Linked DNA regions of Homo sapiens: region 2 is linked to region 1. The links come from fine-mapping of genetic effects on gene expression. A gene starts in region 1. The other region holds a variant in brackets. All regions are shown on one strand. Distances are between the middles of the regions.

Region 1 (2,920 bases):
ATTTAACTGTTTATGTAAATTTTAAGTGTAATAATAGTTGTGTGTGTACATGCATGTACACATTAATACTAAGAAACAGACCCAGCGAAGATAATATGTATGATACAAAATGAGATACTTCTCAACAAACATTCACTCCTTTCTGGCTCCATAAATTTGGGATTTGCTCTCTGGCTTACGGTGGTCAAAAGAGAGTAAAGTGAGATATAAGCAAAGGCTATACCTATGATTCAGGAAGTTGGCCTGTCTTTTTGCTGTTTTGGATCTGCCATCAAAAGACAGTGATTTGAGGAGCTGAATAGTAACCAATGATTTAAAGAGAGTTAGGAAATATATGGAGGAGATTTGCATGTAATTTGCAGCTTAACATTAAGTCAAGACAATCATATATGAGTCTAGTAGAGCAATAGTCACCCTTCAAACATGGAAATATGGGCATAAGCGTTAGAAGCCAGAGTGAATTAGTGTTGATTACACAGCAAGAAATGGCTTACTAAAAATGTAATGTTACTTACAATATGTGGAATTACAACCAAATGTATTAATCAACATAACTACATCACATGGGTAAAAAAAGAAGTTATATTGTACAATTTAAGATGTAAATACTCCTTTTTTTCTCTAATATATGAAGTTAAGTCTTACATAACTCTCAATGACTGAAGATAAATACAATTGTGTAATTAAAGAAATTTGCTAAGATAATTATCTCTCCAATTTATAAATGAAATATATTATTTAACTATTTAGATATAAATTATAAGTGATAAACGAGTGAGAAGAACTTTTAGAAGGGGTCAAAATTAATTAAGCAAGATTTTTTTTTTTTGCTAAATGCCCATCTCACAGGTTTTTAAAAAAATTTTTTTTTGCTAAATTATAACTAAGCAAGTTTCAATGTTTTTTAAGATGTATAGGTCATGAATATAATTTTACTAATGTCATATGTGGTGTGAGATAAAATATTTGAGGCATTTTTGAATTGCATCCAGATTCTACACTTTGTTTCATTAACATTTTCAAATAAATCTTAAAGTATTATAAATATTTAATATTTAAAAATTTTGGAACTCATCAAAGATATTGAGAGGTGACAACGTGCTGGCAGTCCTCACAGCCCTCGCTCGCTCTCGGCGCCTCCTCTGCCTGGGTTCTCACTTTGGCGGCACTTGAGGAGCCGTTCAGCCCACCGCTGCACTGTGGCAGCCCCTTTCTGGGCTGGCCAAGGCCGGAGCCGGCTCCCTCAGCTTGCAGGGAGGTGTGGAGGGAAAGGCGACAGCGGGAACCGGGGCTGCGCGCGGCGCTTCCGGCGCTGCGCGCGGCGCTTGCGGCCAGCTGGAGTTCCGGGTGGGCGTGGGCTTGGCGGGCCCTGCACTCGGAGCAGCCGGCTGGCCCCGCCGCGGCCGAGCAATGAGGAGTACACCCTCCGGGCCAGCGACTGTGGAGGGTGTACTGGGTACCCCAGCAGTGACAGCCCACCGGCGCTGCGTTCGATTTCTCGCTGGGCCTTAGCTGCCTTCCCTCAGGGCAGGGCTCGGGACCTGCAGCCCGCCATGCCTGAGCCTCCCACCCCCTCCGTTGGCTCCTGTGCTGCCCGAGCCTCCCGGATGAGCGCCGCCCCCTGCTCCAGGGCGCCCAGTCCCATCGACCACCCAAGGGCTGAGGAGTGCGGGCGCGCGGCGCGGGACTGGCAGGCAGCTCCACCTGCAGCCCCGGTGAGGGATCCACTGGGTGAAGCCAGCTGGGCTCCTGAGTCTGGTGAGGACATGGAGAACCTTTATGTCCAGCTCAAGGTTTGTAAATACACCAATCAGCACCTTGTATCTAGCTCAGGGTTTGTGAATGCACCAATCGACACTCTGTATCTAGCTACTCTGGTGGGGTCTTGGAGAACCTTAATGTCTAGCTCAGGGATTGTAAATACACCAATTGGCACTCTGTATCTAGCTCAAGGTGTGTAAACACACCAGTCTGCACCCTGTGTCTAGCTCAGAGTTTGTGAATGCACCAATGGACACTCTGTATCTAGCTAATCTAGTGGGGACGTGGAGAACCTTTGTGTCTAGCTCAGGGATTGTAAACGCACCAGTCAGCGCCCTGTCAAAACAGACCACTGGGCTCTACCAATCAGCAGGATGTGGGTGGGGCCAGATAAGAGAATAAAAGCAGGCTGCCTGAACCAGCAGTGGCAACCCGCTCGGGACCCCTTCCACACTGTGGAGGCTTTGTTCTTTCGCTCTTTGCAATAAATCTTGCTACTGCTCACTCTTTGGGTCCACACTGCTTTTATGAGTTGTAACACTCACCGCGAAGGTCTGCAGCTTCACTCCTGAGCTAGCGAGACCACGAACCCACCAGAAGGAAGAAACTGAACACATCCGAACATCAGAAGGAACAAACTCCAGACGCGCGCCACCTTAAGAGCTGTAACACTCACCGCGAGGGTCCGAGGCTTCATTCTTGAAGTCAGTGAGACCAAGAACCCACCAATTCTGGACACAATAGTATCTCATTGTGGTTTTGATTTTCATTTCTGTAATGATCTGTGATACTGAGCTTGATACAGGTTTTTTGACCACATATATGTTTTCTTTTGAAAAGTGATTGTTCATGGCTATTGCTCACTTTTTAATGGGGTTGTTTTTCCCCTGTAAATTTGTTTAAGTTCCTTATAGATGCTGGATATTAGATCTTTGTCAGATACATTGTTTGCAAATATTTTCTCCCATTTTGTAGGTTGTCAGTTTACTCTGTTGATAGTTTCTTTTGCTGTGCAGAAGCTCTTTAGTATAATTAGATCTCATTAATCAATTTTTACTTTTGTTGCTGTTGTTTTTGGTGTCTTTATTATGAAATACTTGTCAGTTTCTATGTCTATAATGGTATTGCCTTGTTGTCTTCCAGGGTTTTTATAGTTTTG
Region 2 (2,920 bases), 920 kb after region 1:
AAAGGCACAATCAATGGACAGGGATTCTTGAAGTGAGCGGGAATAAAAACACATTACTGAGCCTAACGTGGTAGAAAAAGTTGCAGAGAATTTGAAAGAAGCTCAAGGAAGGTAAGGAGTCTAGCAAAAAAAGAAAAAAAAGAAAAAGGCTCACCTTTAAAGACAACTATACTGATGGCTAAAGAAAGTGAACAGAAGTGTAAAACACAGTTTTTCACAAAAATTTCAAACCACACATATTATCAAAAAAATCTGTCTTATTCTGGGTTTTAGTGTTAGTAATGAAATTAAATCTTCTTATTAATTCATATTAATAAAAGTGTTCAGCAGCCACTGCTTTGCACTATTTGTTAAATTATTTAAAAATAGTTTAGAAAATTGAGGTTCTGTTTATTCAGATCCTTTTATGCTAACCTTTTGTACAAATACTGGGGAAACTGATAAACAAAACAATTGAGTGGAATTTTGGAGAGCAAAAATTGCCATGGAGAGGTTTTCATTGTTCCAAGTTGTGTGTTGTGGGGGCCTAGACTTTAGTGTATCCAGAAATTCTTTTGATCTCAGAGTTAGCAAACACTTGGGGTGGTTCAGCTTTTAAGAAATTATTTTAAAATCAGGTTTATTGATGTATAACTTATATACAGTAAAATTCATTTTTAAATCGAGAGTTTCTTGAACCCTTTAAAATCTGCAATTTCCTAGGTGCAAATTTAATCAAGATGTATAATATTTCCATCACCCTAATAGTCCTCTCATATCCCTTTATAGTTAATTCTTTTCTCCAGCTCTCAGTCTCTAGAAACCATTGATCTGCCTTCTGTTTCTATACATTTCTCCTTGTTTGCTTTGCTACATCATTTAAAAAAATTAAGATGTTATTTACATAAAATAAAACTTACTTTTTTAAGTGTACAATTAGATGAATCTGGGTTTAGTTTTTTTATGTCTGTGGACTGTGATTGAGGTTTTAAGCCACACATAGGCTATTTTGACTTTGAAGGGCTGCAGTTAATGGTGGCTCTGTCCATAAAATAATAACTTTTTCTTCAGCAATATCTTAGTTCATTTGGACTGCCATAACACAATACCTTAAACTGCCAACTTATAAACAACAGAAATTTATTGTTCACAGTTTTGGAGGCTACGAAGTCCAAGATCAAGGCACCAGTGGATTTGGTGTCTACTATGGGCTGCTCTCTGCTTCAGAGATGGCCTGCCTTTTCATGTTGTCTTCTCACGTGGTAGAAAAAAAAGGATAGGTTCTTTCAAGTTCTTTTATAAAGGCACTAATCCCACTCATGAGGGCTCTGCCCTCATGACTTAATCACCTCCCAAAAGCCTCAACTCTCAATAAAACCACAATGGGAATTAGGCTTCAAAATGAATTTTAGAAAAATACATTCAAAGTATAGCAAGAGGGTAAGGATCTAAGACAAGACATAGGCAGCCTGGACCTCTGCAAAGGCCACAAGAGAGCACATAAGCAGCAACACAAGAACATAAGCAACCTCAACTGACAGTAGCAAGCCGTTGAGATTATAATTGTCAGGCTAATTTATGGAAGGAATTAGATCTCAGGGTCCATATTGGTGGCCTCACTCATTTCTGGTTC[G/A]TAATAGATATGGTCAAGCAAAGTCATGGATCTGGAGAAGTTGCTGGGTTTTTTGGTTTTGTGTTGTTTTCTTTTGTTTGGTTTTTTATAGTTGTGACCAGCTTCAAAATGTAGGTTGCTGCAGCTCAGCAAGAAAGCATAACTTTTCTGAAGCATGCATGTCATAGACAGGCTTGTAACTCTAAAGGAAAGAGAGCCTTATGTGCATTAGAAGCGGGGTCAGGAGGCTGAAAAATATTAACTGCTTTTCAAGTGCAAGTTGGCAGAATTCTGCATGTAATCATGTACGTTGCTGAAGTTCCAGCTGTTAATCTTAGTGTTAGGCTAGCTAAGAAGATCTAGTCATGAGCTGTGTTCCCCATTCAGGGACTCTCCATGCAGGAAAATAAAGGCACTGACTGACCTTGAGTCCTCTGGTGGTTTCGACATGTGCTGAAATGTCATCTCTCATGGTCTGAAGGTAACTGTTGAATGGTTAGCTGTAAATGGCAGAGGGGATTTTCCCAGGAGACAGGTTTCTTAGTCCTGAAGAATTTGGTTGCTGCACAGGACTAAATCCTACTCAAAAATAGAAGGGATGATATGTCACTTTATAGAATTCACAATCAGTTCAGCACTGGCATGTTAAAAATAGGGCTGAAAGAGGAATGGCAATTATTAAGGATAGATGAAATGATTTCCAGAGGTAGTGTGTATGTACGTATCATACAAATGTTATTTTTTTCCTAGGAATTTCTCCTAACTGAATTTAAAATCCACAGAACGTGAATATAAGACAATGTGTTTCCATAGACTTCTAACTTCATAAACCAAAACCAAGATTTTCTTGTTTTTCCCTTATCCCCTGAGATTCAGGTTATTTTATTCTGAAGCCTAAGGCAATATAAAGTGCTACCTTCTGGCAACATAATTATGACTGTGATCATTGGATTAGGTACTATACATTCAGTGGCTTGCTAGATGTGAAGGGTAGTAATGCTCATTTTGTGACCGACTGATTTTTTTGGTGCATTAAAAGTGAGGTACATCAGAAACTGACATAGAAAGAAAATACTTTCTGAGGCCCTGACGGAAATATTCATAATTCTGTGAAAGCCCCATGCACTGATGTTGAAGAAGCCAAATTTTGTCCATGTATTGGAGAACTCCTAGACCTGAAATCCAGCAAAACATGAAGGTGGGAAGGATGGATTGTAGATTTTCCCTTTTTTGGAATGGTGACTCACATGTGCAAAAGAAATTAATTTTGGACTTTTATCTGTTTTGGGATTTAACTTTAAAAAGGATTTAACATTTAGAATTTAATTT

Alleles and levels. Positions count from the first base shown, and alleles are read on the strand shown. Sizes are in standard deviations (SD) of each study's normalised expression.
In carriers of allele A in region 2, the expression in prostate of the gene that starts at base 1,338 in region 1 tends to be higher than with G alone (moderate effect, 0.52 SD a copy in GTEx).

The links.
Region 2: its variant is fine-mapped to the expression of LINC02899 in prostate (GTEx, PIP above 0.99).

The regions. Positions count from the first base shown.
Region 1 is chr5:23,950,011-23,952,930 of GRCh38, forward strand. LINC02899 (long intergenic non-protein coding RNA 2899) reads left to right here and starts at 1,338. Exons shown (of 5, transcript NR_131245.1): 1 at 1,338-1,793. RefSeq lists an enhancer at 1,548-2,047.
Region 2 is chr5:24,866,409-24,869,328 of GRCh38, forward strand. No RefSeq gene overlaps it. Among named protein-coding and RNA genes, the nearest start is that of LINC02239, 27 kb to the left of the region's middle. The variant G/A (reference allele first, on the strand shown) is at 1,613.